Linked DNA regions of Homo sapiens: region 2 is linked to region 1. Evidence: fine-mapped expression QTL. A gene starts in region 1. The other region holds a variant in brackets. All regions are shown on one strand. Distances are between the middles of the regions. Region 1 holds the start of DCAF7 (DDB1 and CUL4 associated factor 7). Region 2 holds the start of CCDC47 (coiled-coil domain containing 47).

Region 1 (10,224 bases):
AGAGCTTTGGCAGCAAGTCCTTAGGCAAGCCAGGCTACCTACAGAGCATAGATTCACTCCTTGTTCAAGTGACAGCATCTCCAATAAGTCTATGTGAACAAGATTAGGACAAAAAGCAATAAAGTAGCATTTTTTTTTAAAGCATTATCACTTTTATCCAGTGGTCACAACAGGGAATGAGTCCTCTCACTGTCTAGAAAAAGGAGGAAGTTAAAACCAGAAGAGTTTTATGTCTTAAATTCCCCTGCTGACAGTCTTGACAGGGACTCGTGGAACACTGCGACATTCTAAATATCTATCAAAAGTACTGATGTGTACCAAAACACATTGTGCCTAAAACACATGAGTATGTGTTCAATACAGACCGGCTAAATTAATGAGCAAATGAATGATAATCCTGAAGGGCTACCGCAAATACCAAGATGAAAAATTAAATACCGGAGTCGAAATAATTATGCATCAAACATATAAAGTAATTGTATTAAAAACCTCAGAGGAATCAACACAGGCTGGTGAGGTGAGTACCCATCCCAGTGTTTCAAGTACAAGGTGGTCATGCCACCCAGACTCACTACTAGGATTCTCCAAAAAGCATCAGATATACCTACAGTCTCTCCTCAGAACCTCAAAAATACTCTCTGGATGCCAAATCTTAGAGCACAAGTAGTCAGTTAAATACTGGGGCAAACTAAATCCCAATCACACTGCCATCTTTATCAAAACCAACCCTGAAACATGCACTTAAGTGGAACAGAAGCCCAGGAACTGCTACCCAGCTTTTCCCAATAAAAGAGGGGAAATAACACCTGGGCCTAAAGACCAAACATATTGTCAAAACACAGGAGAAATGCCAAATTCTTATATCTGACTTACGTAGGTAAGCCAGGTAGAACAAGAGAAAATGGATTTAAACTAGAAAATTACACTACTTGGAGTCTGACTATAAGAATCTGCTAGACTACAAAATGAGTTGGGTTGAAAGAGATAAGGGAATTTTCCCCCCAGAGTCTTTAAAAGGCAGAGAATGAAATAATGACCTTTTCAGCTACCTTTCTGACCTCTTATTCCTGAATCCTTTCTGGAAAATACAAAAGTAAATTTACTAAACAGCCATATAATTCTCTTTGGTTATATTTCAATTACAGGTACAGTAATGATAATAATTAAATAACAGCTAACATCTCTATATGGCTTATTCCACACCGGGTGGCGTTCCTAAGTCCATTACATATATTAACTCATTTAATCTTTGAACAAGGTAGATGTTATTATTTATTGCCCTAATTTTACAGATGATGAAACTGAGACACAGAGGATAACTTGCCCAAGGCAATACAAAACTGGGAAGTGGCAGGACTTAGATAACCCAGGCTAATCACAGAGCTTTTTTCATGGGTGAACTTGGATGGAAGGGCAGAACCAATGTTTAGGAGCATGCAGACACAAAAAGATCACATTCTCGCCTCTGGCCAACAGATGCCAAGGCAGCTCCAGGGCCATGTTCTGAGAGTGCCATCTGGACCACTCAACCACTAGTGTGTCTGTCACCTATCTCCAAGTCTGTTAACTTCAGGGGTGGAGCCCAGGAATGTGCAGCTCCCTCAGGATTCTCACACACTAAAATTTAGAGAACCTGTTGCTCCAACACCAATCTTGCTGTATCCCTCAAGAGACCACAACAAAAGAAGGTAGAAACATAATAACCAATAATGAGGCTGTTTTTTGAGACAGGGTCTGGCTCTGTCGCCCAGGCTGGAGTGCAGTGGCGTGATCTTGGCTCACTATAACCTCTGCCTCCTGAGCTTAAAGCATCCTCCTACCTCAGCTTCCCAAGTAGCTGGTACTACAGGCAGATGCCACCATACCTGGCTAATTTTTTAATGTTTTTGTAGAGTCAGGGTTTCTCCATGTTGCCCAGGTTGGTATCAAACTCCCGGGCTCAAGCGATTCTCCCATCTCAGCCTCCCAAAGTGCTAAGATTACAGGTGTGAGCCACCACGCCCAGCCCTATAATGGGGCTTTTTATTCCAAGTGTAGTTGATAGAATCTGTTTCTTTACTCTGCAACAATTCCCAAATTTATTCACATGAAGGAACACCTGGAAGTCAATTTCTTAAACTGTTGATAGACTTAATTCTATGGATCAACTAGGTACAATTTTACGTTAGGAAAACATGATTATGCTAATGCAAATTTTTAAAAATTACAACCATGTTTTCTTAGTGAATGTCTCCACACTAAAAAGATGACCACTTCTAGCCTTTTTCATCAGTGTTAATTTGCTGTGTCCATTTTACTTTATCCTCTGCTGGTGACCACTATCCATGGCAAGCAGGAACCAATGGTCTAAAAATTCCAACCAATAATTCTAAAGTTCCTCCAAATTATGAAGTCGACCACCTCTTTGGCAGGGTTTCTCACAAACTTAGCCTGAGAATCACTTTAAGGCAGGATTTGCTGCTCACCAACCACTACACATACTTCTCTCTCGCAGGGTTTCTTAACTTGGGGTCTGTGAACTTGAATTGGAAAATTATCCCCATATTTCCATTAACCTCTAGCTAAATTTTTTTGTTTCCTTCAATTACAAATGGGGTCAGGTGCTCACAGTGGTATGACTGTCTGTGACTTTGCCAGCAAGAGAATTTTTTTTTCCCACCACAGCACAGTTGTTAAGCATCTTGAAATGCTGTTTACCCTTGTCACCATTTCAAAATTACATTAATAATTACAGTGGATGGTGTAAATCAATAAGTTAATTTATTAAAAGTACATATGACTACATCACCACTTTAAAAAACATGTTGTTTATATCTGTAGTGCAACATAAGTGGTTTCTTTTGTAATTCTATGTGTTTTATGCATTTGAAAACATAACTATGAGAAGGGGTCTATTGGTATCAGATGACCATGGCACACAGAATTTAAGAACCCTGATCTACTGATAGGTGGAGGCACAAAAATGATTTTAAGACAGCGCATTGCCTACATCATGTGAGTTAAGATATAGTTAACTGCTAATGCTGTTGATAGTGGGGTTATTAGTTTGCATTTCACTGCTAAGCCATGCTACCTGTGTGCCTGTCACAAAGAGGAAGCTCCAGATAGTTGCTAAATGAAAGGACAAACTGGGGTAGAGTTCCTGCAACAGCAGTTTGACTACTCCACTGATCCTACCAAGCAGCCTAACTGTGGCTCAGTTTCTCCTCTCTGAGGAATAGGAGTAACTATTGCTTACCCAACGACCCTGGAAAAACTTACAAGAAAAAACATTAATTTGTGTAAAAAGACTTAAGCCCTTTGAAAGACATACTTTTTTATTTTCCACGTGTATCTTTAAACAATAGTTCTAGTGGTCTTAATTTTATTAACACGGTGTCCACATCAGAATCGTGAATCCCATTTCCAGTTCTGCTGTCCACTATGGGCCATAAGGAAGAAAGAAGCAACAGAGGAAAGAAAGCTCTATCTCGCCCGGGCAATGGGTGGACTTAAAGATCAGTGCATATTCCTTGGATTTGTTTGTAAATTGTTCATGTATGTGTAATGTCTGGACAATGAGAATCCATAGCTTTCATCAGCTTCTCAAAGTGGACTCCAAAGAGGACCTACTCTAGAGAAACAAATGTGCTCCTGAAAAACTGTAAACAAACTGTGAAATGTTCAAATTTCTTTTTTACAAGACCCTCACATGTAAACCAGAACCCCTTCCGTACAAACTGTGGGTCACAGATAATAAAACAGGCCTGTGCAACATCTCACAGCTAGTCAATAACCAGACAGGACCACCTGGTTTCTTCCCCCCTGCATCAGCCTTGTCACTGAACAGTTTTATTCTTCTTTTTTTTTCTGAGACAGAGTCTCACTCTGTCGCCCAGGCTGGAGTGCAGTGGCGCCATCTCGGCTCACTGCAACCTCCGCCTCCCAGGTTCAAGCAATTCTCCAGCCTCAGACTTCCGAGTAGCTGGGACTACAGGCGCACTAAGCTACGCCCGGCTTTTTTTTTTTTTTTTTTTTTTTTTTTTTTTTTTTTTTTTGTATTTTAGTAGAGACGGGGTTTCACCGTGTTACCCAGGCTGGTCGCGAACTCCTGAGCTCAGGTAATCCGCCCGCCTCGGCCTCCCAAAGTCCTGGGATTACAGGCGTGAGCCACCGCGCCCGGCCAGTTTTACTCTTCTTAAATCTGATGTTCATGGCATAAAGCAGGAGTAGTGGCTTTAAATATCACTAGCCACAGCTTTCAGTTGCTCTGATCGCTATCATTCACAACTTTGAGTAAAAGGAAGAAAGAAAATTCTTCCAACTGACTTATTCAACTTTCAAAAATGAGTTTGTTGCAATGCCAGTTTAAAAGCTCCCCTACTACACCGTGCTTCTATAAAGGATTCTCAAATTGATGTATGTCCAGCAAGACTTACTACTAAAGGTCACACAACTGTACTAGCACGAAACAAGCCAAGAGATAAGGCCCTGTCATCCTTCTGTGTTCAGGAAACAACGGCGGGATCATGCCACAGGCCAAGATTTCCAAAGAGATTGCTTTAGAGAGAATGGATATCAGGAAGCAAGAGCAACAGTAATTCTGGCAGAAGGGCTAGGATCCATGAGTACCCGGGGGGGGTGGGAGTAGGGGGCGGGGAAGCTTGTACAATAGATCGTCTTAATAGAAATCTAGTGTGGCCAGGAGTGCACGACCACCAATAGAAGCGCCTGCATTTTCCTTCACAGCTATCACTCTCTCTTCCCTTCCCCGCCCACCAACGAAAGCAATGCGGCAGGAGTGGAGAGCACGGGATGAATAAATGGAGTATCTTTGGGGCGTAAACCCGGTTTTAAGACCTGTTTCCACCCCGAAATAGCTGCCTGACCCAGGCAAGTCACAAAACCGTGCCTCAGTTTCCCCACTACACTGCCGACTACACAAGAATGCTGCCTGGATTAAAGGAGACAGACAACGAGTACGAAACCTTCAGCACAGGGCCAGACAGAGGAACCGCTCCGTGGCCCTAGGGCGAGTCCGCAAGAGGGTTCTGAGGCCTGGGCTCCGGCCCGGAAAGGGCGCTCCCGGGGCCCGCTCCCCGCCAGCTGGGTTCCGAGCCCCTGCCCGGCCCACCTTGTTGTTGTACTCCTCCACGAAGCTGCCCAGCGCCAAGCGAAAGCGCTTATCGGGCCGCACACTCCAGTTCATCGCGTAGACTGTCCAGGGCGCTTCATACTTGTAGATCTCCTTCCGTTTGCCGTGCAGGGACATGGTGGCCACGGGGCCGCAGTACGGGCCGGGTCAACAGTGGGCTGCGGCGGGCGGGGAGCCGAGCCTGAGATCTATGGGTCCGAAGGGAGGAGAGGAGGGGGCGGGCAGGAACGGCCTAACCCGGAAGCGGGGATGCGGCGACAAACAACGACGACGGCCGAGCCCGACCCCTAGTTTCAAACCAGCTTGGGAACGGACGACAACCACCTTCCGTTTTGGGACGCCGCCCCGCCCTCTCGGAACGGAAGCCGCCGGACCCCCGCAGCGGCACCGGCCGTTGGTTGCCTGACACGTCCTTTCGAAAGGATTCTTTCTTGTCATTGGTTATTGCGGCCGTAGCGTCTGAAATCTCCTCGCTATTGGGTTAAATGTTTGTCATTGCAACTACTCGCCCCGCCCAACTCTCGGAGGCAGGCGCTTTGGCAGCCCCAAAGGTCATTGGTTGGCCAAGATGTCAGTCAGGCAGATAACGGCTCAGTGCGGGTGGTGGGGGCGTGGGTGGCCTGGAGGCGAGCGTGCTGTAGCAGCGGGCCTCCAAGTTCTAGGCCAAGTCTCTGAGAGTGAAACCGTCTGTGACCTGCGCTGACTTCCCCTCCGCTGCTGCTGTTCTGAGCGGCCTCTCCACGCTGTCGAGTAAAAGTACAATTCTGCCTTAGTGGAAGACCTACTGACTTTCGCGGGACAGAGCCCTGCGGCCTGGCAGCCTGGCCTGCGCCCAACGGGTACCACCTTCCCGCCCCATCTCTTCCCAGGGCCCTTTTAACCCGAAAGCTGCTCTCTCCGTGCCTCAGGGACAGGCTTCGGGCGCGCAGATGCGCTCAGGGCCAGGCCAGCTTGAGTCAGGCCCTCCCGCGCTTTCCTGCAGGATCTAGAAATGTCCCCGAATTCTGGGGTAGGCACCGACCCGACCAGCTTGGCTCTGTTTTTGTCAGTTCCCATCCTGTACCCTTCCCGCCGTGGATCCCAACGCAAATGCTAATCCAGCCCCAAAGGTATCTGTGCCTGTGAGTTGGAAAAGGGGAAGGGCCAGAGACCAAATGACACCTTTATATAAATTATTTCCAATTCTCAGCTTTCATCAAAATTGAAGGAGGTTTGTATTGAATTGTTGGATGATAACATTAAATACTTTTTTTTTTTTTTTTTAAAGACAGGGTCTTGCCCTGTCACCCAGGCTGGAGTGCACTGGTGTGATAAGGGCTCACTGTAGCCTGGACTGCCTAGGTTCAAACGATTCCCCCACTTTAGCCTCTGGAGTAGCTGGAACCACAGACATTTGCCACCACACCTAGCTATTTTTAAATTATTATTTGTAGAGATGAGATCTCTCCATGTTGCCCAGGCTGATCTCGAACTCCTGGGCTCAAGCGATCCTCCCACATCAGCATCCTAAAGTACTGGGATTACAGGCTTGAGCCACCATTCTGGGCACTAAATATAATTTTTAATGATAAATGATTTTTCCACCTCCCAGGTTCAAGTGATTCTCCTGCTTCAGCCTCCCGAGTAGCTGAGATTACAGGGGTGCACCACCACAGCCAGCTAATTTTTGTATTTTTAGTAGAGATGGGGTTTCACCATGTTGGCCATTCTGGTGTCGAACTCCTGACCTCAAATGATCTTCCAGCCTCGGCCTCCCAAAGTGTTGGGATTACAGGCGTGAGCCACCGCATCTGGCCAAGAAATCCTCTTTTTTTTTTAATTTTATTTTATTTTTGAGATGGAGTCTCACTCTGTCGCCCGGGCTGTAGTGCAGTGGCACTATCTCGGCTCACTGCAACCTCTGCCTTTAGGGTTCAAGTGATTCTCTTGCTTCAGCCTCCTGAGTAGCTGGGATTACAGGCGCCCGCCACCATGCCCAGCTAAAGGAAATCCCCTGTAAGGAGGAAAGTTTAAAAACAAATTTAAAAAGGAAAGAAAAAGACGTACAAAATTCGCGGTACCTTGTCTTATTCTAATAAAAAATAATGATATTTATCCACAGATATAGGAACTAACGGGGGGAGGAAATTTTCTCTTTTATGACGTATATTTCCAATAAAATTTTAGTTTTTATTAGAAAATTGAATATATATTTATGTTGTTTTGAACAACTGTACTACTAATAGATGTAACCCTTAAAGCCTTATTAAGGTTACAAAAATTAATTTTAAAATGTCAATTAATTTATACACATTCGTTTTGAGGCAGGGTCTTGCTCTGTTATCCAGGTGGTGGTGCAGTGGGGCAAACAGTGCTTATTGCAGCCTTGACCTCCCGGGCTCAAGCAATCCTCCTGCCTCCTTTATTTTTTGTAGAGACAAGATCTTGCTATGTTGCCCAGGCTGGGTTCAACTGGTCCTCCCACCTCAGCCTCCCAAAATGCTGGGATTATAGGCATGAGCCACCCCATGACCGACCTACTTTTTTTTTGAAACGGAGTCTTGCTCTGTTGCCCACGCTGGAGTGCAGTGGCACGATCTTGGCTCACTACAAGCTCCACCTCCTGGGTTCACGCCATTCTCCTGCCTCAGCCTCCCGAGTAGCTGGGACTACAGGCACCTGCCACCACGCCTGGCTATTTTTTTTGTATTTTTAGTAGAGATGGGGTTTCACCCTGTTAGCCAGGATGGTCTTGATCTCCTGACCTCGTGATCTGCCCACCTCAGCCTCCCAAAGTGCTGGGATTACAGGTGTGAGCCACTGCGCCCAGCCACTTTTTTTTTTTTTTTTAAGAGACCGAGTCTTGCTCTGTTACCCGGGCTGGAGTACAGTTGCATGAACATGGCTTACTGCAGTCTTGACCTCTTAGGTTCAAGTGACTCTCCCACCCAAGCCTCCCAGCAAGCCCTGTAGTACCTGGGACTACAGGTGCGCATCACAATGCTTGGCTAATTAAAAAAAAATTGTTTTGTAGAGACCAGGTTGAGCTATGCTGCCCAGGCTGGTCTTGAATTCCTGGCTCAAGCAATCTTCCAGCCTCAGCCTCCCAAAGTGTTGGGATTACAGGCATGAGTGAGCCACTGCACCCAGCCTGTATACATATTTGTGTTGCAAACATATGATAGGGTGATCAATATTAGGCTTTGAAGCATACCAATAAATTACATGTAGGATAAAACTATGGGAGGAATAAGTGGGAATTATGAGAAAAGAAAAAAGAACGATGTTAAAGAAGGGTTTCTTGTGTTTTTAAAATAGATGGTGGTGGCTCTCAAATCGCTGCTATTTGGGTAGAAATGGGTCAATACAAATGCCCCGTGTTGGGCACGGGGATGATTTTTAAAATTTTCATTTTGAGACAGGGTCTTATTCCCTTGCCCAGGGTGTGAGTTCAGTGATGCAATCACGGCTTACTGTAACCTTGGACTCCTGGCCTCAAGCAGTCCTCCTGCCTCATCCTCCTCCCAAAGCCCTGGGATTACAGGCATGAGCCACTACACCTGGCCTCTTTTTTTATTTTTATTTTCTTTTTAACTGAGGTATAATTTACACACAGAAGCACACTCTTTCGCAACCTGAACACCTGTAACCAGCACCTAGATCAGGAAACAGAACAGTACCTGCACCTCAGAAATCCCCCTCATGTTTGGGTGTCTTAGTCTCTCTGCTACTGATCCCACATCTGTAAAATGGGGATAATAATACCAACCCGTTGGGGTTGTTTTGAGGATTAGATGAACAAGTATCTGCAGAGCTGTCAGCACAGTGCCTGGTACGGGGCGAGTGCTACCGAAGTGTTGGCTGTTGTCATGATCCCCTAGGGCCACCAAGCCAGTGCCTCTGCTTCCCTTCACCTCGGCCTAACAGCCCCAGGCTCCAGGAGCCTCTGGGCCCAGCAGAACCACCTTCAGGTCCCCAACACACTGGATATGGTGGAGGGTAAGTCTGCAGCTCCTTACAAGAAGGGTTTGGAGAAAGCCACAGCACAGTCAAAGACGTAATGACCTTCAGATAAGTTACACACCCAGTCCAACATGAAATGTGTACTTTATTAGCTGTGTGACACTCCACTGCCCTCAAGAGACCCAATGTCACAGAACCATCAGGAGCAGAGGGCTGGAGGACTGTCCTGACATGTCTGCCACAGAACATACCTCCATCTCCAGCCAGGTCAGAGGCTCATGGTAAGAGTTCTGACCAACCCCGGGCCTTGGTGCTGAGCCATGAGGTGCTGGAGGGTTCTGAGCTGGGAGGCTCAGAGCAAGGTACTCATGTAGATCAGAAACCTCTTTCTTCACTGCCCCCTCAATCCTGTAAGCTGCCTCCACACCTGAGACTCTCCCACCCTGCACCAGGCTTGCTGTTTAAATGGAGCCCTGGAGGAGGCTGGGAAAAGTCGTGAGCTTCTTCACCCACGCCATCCTGGGTCACCTGGATCAGCAGTTTGTAGCTACTTTAGGAGAGGCCCATCTGGGGGGCTGTCTGCCTCCCCAAGATCTTTTTTTTTTTTTTTTTTGAGTTGGAGTCTCACTCTGTCACCCAGGCTGGAGTGCAGTGGTGCGGCCTCGGCTCCCTGCAACCTCCACCTCCCGGGTTCATGCCATTCTCCTGCCTCAGCCTCCCCAGTAGCTGGGATTACAGGCGCCTGCCACCACGCCCGGCTATTTTTTTTCTTTTTTAATTTTAGTAGAGGTGGGGTTTCACCGTGTTAGCCAGGATGGTCTGATCCGCCCGCCTCGGCCTCCCAAAGTGCTGGGATTACAGGCGAGCCACTGCACCCGGCCACCTCCCCAAGATCCTTAACTCTCACCTTGCCCACCTTCAGTCCCCTCATGGTGTCTTTATCTTGGAGTTCAGTGGCCCCAACTCCCTGCAAATCCAGGATCTGAGCCATGTCTCTGGAAGTCCAGCTGCTTGGGAACAGAGCCAAGGTGTTCAGGGAGGGAGGAGAAGCAGGGACCACAGATGAGTCCTTGTACTTCCAGGGGATGTAGAGGTGAGGCTAGGGGTGGCCAGAGCCCCTCAGGCTGTTCCTGTTCTGAGGATGGTGC
Region 2 (10,224 bases), 230 kb before region 1:
TCACTGGTGGTCCATGAGTGGGAGCAAAGGCATAGAAGTGTTCTGAGAGATGACATGTTAAATTTTGAAACCTCAAGAGGCATTAGATCAAAGAGGCATTAAAGAAGGGCATTTCAGATGGAAGGATCTGTTAAGTGTTACCACAGAGAACAAGAAATAGTTCAGTGCAGCTAGAGTTCAGTAGCACATTTGGGAAATTTGCAGGACACATGTTCAGAAAGACAGGTAGGGCCAAGATGAACAGCTTAGAAGGCTATGCTAACGACGTACCATACAAAACTGTATTCTGCCAGCTACAAAGAATCGTTAATTTTACACAGAAGGGAAATTTTCAGATCAGTGTTTTTGAAAGACAGAATGAGAGATACTCATGGTAGAGGCAAGGAAAGTAGAAGGCTGTTGCAGCAACGCAGGTATAAAGCGACAAAATTCTGAACTAAGAAAGCACCTGTGGGAAAGGAGAAACGGGGGATGGATCTGAGTTATTTATTTAGATATCTGAGGAAAGATCAATTAGGATTGTGTGACCAGTAATTGGTGTGGAAGCTAAGGAAGAAGAGTCTAGAATAACTTCAGAAGTTTCTGGCTTTAAAGACTGGGTGAACTGTGGAGCCACTAATGGAGATGGAAACCTAAAAGAGCCAGGTTTGCAAAATTAGGCAAAAGGTGAGTTCAGTATCTATGAGAGAGCTGAGTAGAGATGCCAAGCAGGGGCAGTAACTGCAGAGAGGGGTCCGGAGTGAGCTATAGATTTGATGTAAGCCATTTGCATTTGAGGTTACTGATGTAAATAAGCTAGCAGAGAGACCATGCAGAGTGAGAAAAGAAGTAAGACAATTCTTTCTTTTCTCCCCAAGACGGAGTCTTGCTCTGTCGCCCAGAGCTGGAGGGCAATGGCATGATCTTGGCTCACTGCAACCTCCGCCTCCTGAGTTCAAGCAATTCTCCTGCCTCAGCCTCCCGAGTAGCTGGGATTACAAGCACGCACCACCGTGCCCAGCTAATTTTTGTATTTTTAGTAGAGACAGGTTTCACCATGTTGGCCAGGCTGGTCTCAAACTCCTGACCTCGTGATCCACTGCGCCCAGCTGGTAAGACAATTCTTTTTTTATTTTTATTTTTTGAGACGGAGTCTCACTCTGTCGCCCAGGCTGGAGTGCAGTGGCACAATCTCGGCTCACTGCAAGCTCTGCCTCCCGGGTTCACACCATTCTCCTGCCTCAGCCTCCCCAGTAGCTGGGACTACAGGCACCTGCCACCAGGCCCGGCTAATTTTTTGTATTTTTAGTAGAGACGGGGTTTCACCATGTTAGCCAGGATGGTCTCGATCTCCTGGCCTCGTGATCCACCTGCCTCGGCCTCCCAAAGTGCTAGGATTACAGGCGTGAGCCACCACATCCGGCCCAGTAAGACAATTCTTAACATATATCACTATTTAGGAATGGGCAGAAAAAGAGAAGCTTACATGGAAACTTCAGATGGAACAGGGATTGGGGAAGGGAAAGAAAGAAGAGGGGGAAAGAAGGAAGGGGAGACAAGGAGGAACACGGGTGAGGAGAAAGAAGCTCTATAGGCAGAAAACTAAAGAGAAGTTAGGTAAGTTAAGAACTAAAATGTGCCAGGCACGGTGGCTCACGCCTGTAATCCCAGCACTTTGGGAGGCCAAGGCAGGCGGATCACAAGGTCAGGAGATCAAGACCATCCTGGCTAACACGGTGAAACCCCATCTCTACTAAAAATACAAAAAATTAGCCGGACGTGGTGGCGGGCACCTGTAGTTCCGGCTACTCAGGAGGCTGAGGCAGGAGAAAGGCATGAACCTGGGAGGTAGAGCTTGCGGTGAGCCAAGATCCGGCTACTACACTCCAGCCTGGGCGAGAGTGCGAGACTCTGTCTCAAAAAAACAAAACAAAAAGAACTAAAATTCTTCTGTTGTATAGGCAACCAGGAGTCATCAGTGAAAGCAGTTTCAATGGAGCAGTAGGGACAGGGTTGAGGAGTACCTGGCAAGTAAGTAGTAGAAGATGAAGACTAGGTCAAGAGGAGTCAAGAGTACTTTGTAGGCTGTTTATCAATGATAGGAAGGAGAAAGTGAAGCATTACCTACAGAAATTTTATTTTTTAAAGAAACATAGGCATGTTTATATGCTAAAGGGGAAAAACCAGTAAAGTCTGAAAAACTGAAGATGCAAAATGACAGAAAAAAGTCATAGGATTTCCAGAGAAGACCAGACACAATCAAAACTTTTAACAACAGGAGTAACTCACTCTTCCCCCAAAGCTAGAGGGAAGGAGTGAAAAGAACAAACATGACTATGAATCAGCCCTATTAAATAATCAAAAGGTTCATATTACAAAAGCAGCAAATCAACTCCTGCCACAAACAGGCAGGCAGTGAGACCTTGGGCAGGTGAGGGTTGCTTACTGGCTCTCAAGACTTAGCAAGTTGGAAAAGCGATCCTTTCCCTAGCTCATCTAGAACACACAGCTCATTGTCCCTCAATTACTGACTCTAGGAAGGCCAAGGAACTGTGCTTTCTATATACCCTGAGTAGAATGTTAGCTCTATGAGGGCATAGACTTGACTCAATTTGTCCAGCACTATATCCTTGGTGTCTGCATAGTACTCAAAAAATTTTGCTGTATGAATAAATGTAATGTATTCAGGCTCTCCAAAATTCATCCCAGTATTTATGAAAACTCTATTTTATTACTACAAACCTTGTTATCTAGCTAACCACCCTTCCTGATTAAATCTAAGCCAGATCATCCTCAATGGATCATTACTTAAGTCTCTTGACAACAGTTTTTCCTACTTTTTTTTTTTTTTGTTTTTTTGAGACAGTTTCGCTCTTGTTGCCCAGGCTGGAGTGCAATGGCGCAATCTCAGCTCACCACAACCTCCGCCTCCCAGGTTGAAGTGATTCTCCTGCCTCAGCCTCCCAAGTAGCTGGAATTACAGGCATGTGCCACCACGCCTGGCTAATTTTGTATTTTTAGGAGAGATGGGGTTTCTCCATGTTGGTCAGGCTGGTCTCAAACTCCCGACCGCCGGTGATCTGCCTGCCTTGGCCTCCCAAAGTGCTGGGATTACAGGCGTGAGCCACCGTGCCCGGCAGTTTTTCCTACTATTAAACCATGTAGTGTATATGGTTACTGAACCTTGACAATCACAGAGATTTGTGGGAGTATAGCTGACAGAAGAAGCAAAAGATAGCCACCCAAATTTCTATTTGGTTACTAAAAAAATAAAAGAGGCAGATGCAGTGGCTTACGCCTATATTCCCAGTACTCTGGGAAGCAGGAGGATGGCTTGAGGCCAGGAGTTTGAGACCAGCCTGGGCAACACAGCGAGACCCCATCTCTACAAAGAAAACAAAAAGAAAAAAAAAAGAGATACCTAGAATAGTCAAACTCAGAGACACAGAGTAGAAGAGTGGTTGCCAGGGGCTGCGAGGAGGGGAGAATAGGGTGTTATTGTTTAATGGGTACAGAATTTCAGTTTTACAAGATGAAAAGTGTCCTGTGGCTAGATTGTGGTGATAGTACCAAAAGAAGAAAACAAAATGAGGTGGGCACAGTGGCTCACAACTGCAGTCCCAGCACTTTGGGAAGCCAAGGCAGGAGGATGGCTCGAGCTCAGGAGTTAGAGGTCAGCCTGGACAACAATGAAAGACCTGATTTCTACAAAAAATACAAAAATTACCCAGGTGTGGTGGTGTGCACCTGTAGCCCCAGCTACTCGGGAGGTTGAGGTGGGAGGATGGCCTGAACCCAGGAGTCGGAGGTTGCAGTGGGCCGAGATCATGCCAATGCACTCCAGCCTGGGTGACAGAGTGAGACTGCGTCTCAAAAAAACAAAACCAAAACAAACAAAAAAAACACACTTGGGGAAATTCAACTGCATTTTTGTATTTTTTCTCTTAAAAAAGATTTCTTCATTTCCTGCTGGGGTGCCAAAAAATAAAAATTTAAAAAAGAACCCTTTTGAAATACCTAATTTGAAAAGAATTAGCTGAATAGAGCCATAAACAAAGTTTAATGAGTATTTGTTTAAAAAAGAACAACCCTAAGTGGTTCTTAGTAATAACATCCATTGTTTTATACTGACCAATAACCACTGATGATTTTGTTATGTGCCCAGTACTATGAGGGACATCCCTCACGTATACCCGCCTTTCCATCTCCACCTCCACTATTGCAATTATTTCCTAAAAAAAAATTTCTGATTATTGGGAGGCCGAGGTGGACGGATCACAAGGTCAGGAGATCAAGACCATCCTGGCCAACATGGTGAAACCCCATCTCTACTAAAAATACAAAAATTAGCCAGGCGTGATGGCGCGCACCCATAGTTCCAGCTACTTAGGAGGCTGAGGCAGGAGAATCTCTTGAACCCAGGACACGGAGGCTGCAGTGAGCCGAGATCGTGCCACTGCACTCCAGCCTGGATAACAGAGCGAGATGCTGTCTTAAAAAAAAAAAAAACTTTATTATCAAGCTCTCACAGCACTACTAGAGTGATCACTAAGTCAAAATATACTGAGTGCCTATTTTGTGCCAGTAACTGCTCTAAGGTGCTAAGGATACAGTAATGGAATCAGATGCAGCCATACTCAGAGTTCACAGTCTGGCCCAGGAGAAAGAAAAACTAAATCATGTAATTCCAGGTAGCAAAAGTGCTATGAAAAGCAAGCAAGAGGGTAAGAGGCAAGCTATTGCAGACTTAAGTCAGGCAAGGCCTCTCTGAGATGAATGACATTTGACAGGTAATCCTCCCCTGACTACTGTCCCAAGAATGTCTGTTTTATTGGAAAAGTAATGTGGATGTACATCCAGATGCTTCATCTAAAACCAGCAAATCTTCCATAGTCTATGAGAAGTGATTCTGTTTAGTAAAGCATAAAATGATGAAGTAATAGTGAGACACACAGTGAAAAGAGAAAAGCAAGTTTTACCTCCTTTGGTAGAGTAGCATAGTGTGTGTTAATACCGTGGAACCAGAAAAAGTCTCACAGAAGGGAGGTCAGTATTCAGATGCTTATCGAAAACCCTTTCCAGGTTCTTCCAGAACACACATTTCTGATTATGTCACTCTCCTCAATTCCATAGCTCTCCACAGTTAATCATGCTGGAATGAGACCCTCCATTGTGGCATCAAACTACTTTACCATTCATATTTCCCAGGGTCTCTCCACACGTACTCAGTTTTCCAGGAAAACAAGCACTCTAGTGAATCCTCTTCCCTCTAACTGGATCCCCTTCACATCAAATCTCTTTCCTATAAACTGTGAGTACCTACCAAAGTCCTATCCTTCAAAGCATATCTCAAATACCAACTCCTAAAGACATGAATATGATATCCCCAAAGAAATGGCATCTCCTGGCTGGGCACGGTGGCTCACGCCTGTAATCTCAGCACTTTGGGAGGCCGAGACGGGTGGATCACGAAGTCAGGAGATCGAGACAATCCTGGCTAACATGCTGAAACCCCATCTCTATTAAAGATACAAAAAAATTAGCCAGGCGTGGTGGTGGGCACCTGTAGTCCCAGCTACTCCGGAGGCTGAGGCAGGAGAATCACTTGAACCCGGGAGACGGAGCTTGCAGTGAGCCAAGATCGCGCCACTGCACTCCAGCCTGGGCGACAGAGTGAGACTCCGTCTCAAAAAAAAAAAAAAAGAAAGAAAAAGAAATGGCATCTCCTTCCTCAAACTCCCTTTCCAGTCCAACTCCGTATTATAGGATTCATGGCTGAAGAAACAGGCTTATTCACTTTTCTCTTATAGCATGTTTTCAATATTAGATACTCATTTATTCAATATGTAAAAGACTAAAGGAGATCTACAACTAGGCTGAAGAGAAACAGTCAAGATGGCATCAAGTCCTATTTGGTATGGTTCTAGGCACTAAATCCTATGGCTGGCTGGGCAAGGTGGCTCACACCTGTAATCCTCGCCCTTTGGGAGGCCAAGGTGGGAGGATCACTTAAGGCCACGAGTTTGAGACCAGCCTGGGCAACACAATAAAACCCTGTCTTTACAAAAAAATTTAAAAAATTAGCCAG[G/A]CATGGTGGCACACGCCTGTAGTCCTAGCTGCTCAGGAGGCTGAGGCAAGAGGATTGCTTGAACCCAGGAGTTCCAGGTTACAATGAGCTGACTGGACCACTGCACTCCAACCTGGGCAACACAGCAAGACAGTCTCTAAAAAATAAATAAAACACGGTGGTTTCCTAGGAAATCTTAACAGAATAGTAAAGTAGCACAGGCTATGTGTAAACTATCTTTGCTACTAACTTGATATGAACCTCAGGGAAGTTATTTAGCTTCTCTGGGTTCAGTTTCCTCATCTATAAAAAATGGTAAGAGGCTGTGTGTGGTGGCTCACGCCTGTAATCCCAGCACTCTGGGAGGCTGAGGCAGGCGGATTACTTGAGCTCAGGAGTTCAAGACCAGCCTGGGCAACACAGCCAGACACCATCTCAAAAAAAAAAAAAAAAGATGAGACTATCACCTATCTCAAGAGTTGGCGTGAAAAATTAAGTTCATACACAAAAATGTACTTGTTCAATATGTCAGCTACCATCGTGTTTTTCATTATTACATTATTTCTGAAGAACCAATTTCTTCATCGGTAAATTGAGACTATCAGACTTCTTTCAACTCAGGTATTTCATACATAAGCGCCACAAGAACACTGAAGATGTCAGAGATCACCATGAGCTAACAAGCAAGGGCAAGTGTCATAACAGAGTCAGAAGCCAGGCTAGGCACAGAAAGATGAAAGCTGGGTAGAGACGTGCAGACGAAGACATTCCAGGGAGAAAGACTGAACTAGCAAAGGCTAGGAAGTGAGAATAAATGTGGAACACACTTATAAAGGAAGACAATTTAGCTAGTTTGTGTTTTCGGCAATGGCGGAAAATAAGATATGATCTAAATGACTTTAAATATAGTGGACTAAAAACAACTGATTATATAAGCCACATTACTTTATCACTTGTATTTTTGGAGGTGGAAGGAAGAGTTCTAGTGACAGTGATTAGCATCTACTCTACATATACTTTGAGAGTACCTCACACACTATATACAGGTCAGTTCTTTGATGAGAATCTAAATAAAAACTCAAGAACGTAATCACATTCTTCTAAACCAAATACAAGTAAATGCTAGGTTATGGTTATTTTAGAAGCATCCCTTCTCCTGTCAGCTTAAAGCAACTAAGAGCTGATTATATGACTATCAATGTAACAAAACAAATTTAAATAACTGCACTCCTCTCTTATATTAAATTGTTACAATATAAATCAGATATTATCATTCCTCTGATCGAAACCCTCAGATCCTTCCTAAGTAACAGCCTAAAAGGCTTTGGTTGTTCCGCTCACTCCCTTCCCCCAATTCTTCCCTGACCTTATCTCCTAATACTCCCTCAGCTCACAGTGCTCCAAACGCGTTGGTCTTCACACTCTTAACGGGCCAGCTTTGTCCTCCTCAAGGCTTTTATGTTTGTTATTCTCTAGCTTGGAACGTTCCTTTCCCCAGATAAACGTAGGCTCTCACTCCACCTTCTAGTCCGCTTAAATATCAGCTTGTCTGTATGGACTTCCCTGACCACTTTATTGCAAATTCCAACACCACCACCTCCCCAACCCCCTTTCCAGCTTTCTTTTCCCTAAGATACTGATCATCTTCTAACATTCAGTATAATATATGTATCTGTTTGCCTCTCCTCCCGCTACTAGAAAGTTAAGTTCCCCAAAGGCAGGGGTCTAACACCTATCCCTATCACCTAGAACGGCGCTAGAGAATAGGCACCAATAAAAATACCCCTTGAATGAACGAATTGCACATTAGGCTACACAATGCTTCTTCCAGGTACAGGAAGATATATTTTCTTTTCCCAGCTGTCAAAATATAAACATTAATTTTTGTACGAAACACTCATTGCTCACCTCTTATGTGCCAGAAATGAGCTTGGCTCTGCAAAGCGCCTTAAGACATAGTCCCTGCGCTTGAGGAAGTCCTGGGTGTGTATACGAGAGAGGACAGACATAGAAACATCATTGACAAAAAGAAAACACAGGGAAGCCACAAGAAATTGGATAACTGCCTATAGGAGTGGGGGCAAGAGGGAAATTCTCAGTGATGAGAATGTAATTCCCCAAAACTCTCGACAGCTTCTCCTGTTTTTGATGCATATGTTTGCAATTCCATGTAAATTATTTATTCACATCAGATACGCTCTCAAGTAGGCCGCAAAAAAGTTTGTGTGACTACAGTGATGCTAATAATCGACCTACTCAACGCTGCACAAAGATCATCGCCTATATCTTTTCACTCCTCTCATTTGGCAGCTTTTGCCTCTCAGGACCCCAAATTCGGAGGCCTGCATCTCCCAAGCGCTGCCTCCTTGGGTCAGAATTCTCCCCGCGCTATTCCTGCCCTGGAGCCGGGCACCCTGCAAATCCTTTTCCTAGGCGAGGGGGCGCCGCCTCCGGAAAGCCGCCAACTGGGCCTCGGTAAGACTTGTGAGGGAAGCGGGAGCTGTGGGAGGGCGACGCGGCTAGGAAGGAACCCTAGAGGCCTCAGCCCCCACTCCCACCCCTTCCCGGCACCCCGGCCGCCGGTGCCCCGAGGCTCTGCCGACTCTTTGTTAAGCGAGGCCGCGGTTCCTCCGCCCTCGCTAGGCCCAGCAGTTGCCTCCAGTGCCCCCAAGGACTGGCGGCCTTGCGTCCAGAAACCCCACGCACAAACCTGCTGCTATGGCTGCAGCGGCAGCTGCTACAACCGCGGGCGCGGAGCGAATCCCGGAGCCCAAAGTACGCGCTGTCCCGGCCCGGTCCCGCCGCGCTCCTTCCTCTCCGCCCCCTTCGCCGCCGCCGCCGCCACCACCACCACCGCCGCCGCCACCGCCACCACCGCCACCGCCTCACGGCCCGTTGCTGAAGGGGGGAGGGGAACAAAAACGCGACATGCGCAGTGAGGAACGCGCGGGCAGAAGGGCGGGGCCGGGGCTACGGCTCCCGGAAGGCGCCTGACCTTAAAGCTCCAGAACGCCTCACAGGCTCCTCAGATACTCTGACGGGAAACTGCAGTTGGGTGGACAGTGTTCATGACCCATCTAGAAAGTGGGTCTGCGAATGAAGAAAAAGTGGCGTCAAGGGGCTAGCCAAAAATCCCAAGAGAAAACGGGTTGGACAGAAACCATATTTACATGAACATGCCTATAGTTTAAACTGTTGCATATACTACTAGAGCGACACTCTTGCCTCTGGCCACGTGGTCCCACACAGCATGGCCACCTTTAGCTTCCGGAGCACCGGTTCCGTGTGACGTCAACTTGACGGAATCCTAGGTAGGAGGATTGGGATAGGCGAGGGCAGTTCCGGCCCAGGGGCGGGGATTATGTAATTTTCCCAAAAGCCCCACCTCGCCTCAGCCGGGCGGGAGAGAGGGAGGTCTCGCGCTTTCCCCGGGGTTGCGTCCCGCCCCGCAGGCTGCGCGCAGGCGCTGACGAGCCGCTCGCATTCTACGTAACGGACGGCGGAGGCTACGTGAAGAGAGGCGCGGCGTGACTGAGCTACGGTTCTGGCTGCGTCCTAGAGGCATCCGGGGCAGTAAAACCGCTGCGATCGCGGAGGCGGCGGCCAGGCCGAGAGGCAGGCCGGGCAGGGGTGTCGGACGCAGGGCGCTGGGCCGGGTTTCGGCTTCGGCCACAGGTAAGGAGCGGGCCAGGACGCGCTCGTCGGCGTGGCCGGGCCAGGCCGAGCGGTGACTCCGAGTTGCTTGGCCTGTAGCCCGGTCCGGTTGAGATAATTGTAATGGTTTGGGGGAACTTTCCCACGGAGCTGTGAGCAAATGATAGCCAAAAGGGCAGAGTTAGAGGAAATGTACAGTGTGTGCCGGAGGATGACATTAGGATGTATTGATTCTCTTGGGTGGGGAGAAACTAGGCAAAGGGGTTTAATAGAAGCAAAAACCTCTGTGGCCAGTCTCTTCTGGAGGTTTCTAAAATGAAACGTGTTTGTATCCAACACATATAAAGAGACAGAGGAAAGTCTGCATGATTTCCAGAATACTCGTTTTGGCCGTTGTCAGGAAGACCTAATCTAAAATGACAACAAGGAATGATGGCCTCACTCAGTCCTCTTTCCTCAAGTCTAGACTCAGTCGCTGAGGAACTATTGGATGAGCTTGCAGAAAATAATCAAACCAGACTTGT

What was found. PIP is the estimated chance that this variant, and not a neighbour inherited with it, causes the effect.
Region 2: its variant is fine-mapped to the expression of DCAF7 in whole blood (TOPMed, PIP 0.94).

The regions. Positions count from the first base shown.
Region 1 is chr17:63,545,705-63,555,928 of GRCh38, reverse strand. It overlaps DCAF7 (DDB1 and CUL4 associated factor 7), which reads right to left and starts at 5,452. Exons shown (of 7, transcript NM_005828.5): 1 at 5,114-5,452. The coding sequence starts at 5,251. It overlaps KCNH6 (potassium voltage-gated channel subfamily H member 6), which reads right to left. Exons shown (of 13, transcript NM_001278919.2): 13 at 9,202-10,224. The coding sequence ends at 10,027. RefSeq lists silencers at 4,959-5,108, 5,129-5,178 and enhancers at 5,329-5,408, 5,849-6,238, 5,538-6,522.
Region 2 is chr17:63,772,909-63,783,132 of GRCh38, reverse strand. CCDC47 (coiled-coil domain containing 47) reads left to right here and starts at 9,536. Exons shown (of 13, transcript NM_020198.3): 1 at 9,536-9,721. DDX42 (DEAD-box helicase 42) reads right to left here and starts at 8,963. Exons shown (of 18, transcript NM_203499.3): 1 at 8,757-8,963. RefSeq lists a silencer at 8,635-8,924 and enhancers at 9,055-9,364, 9,077-9,661. The variant G/A (reference allele first, on the strand shown) is at 6,068.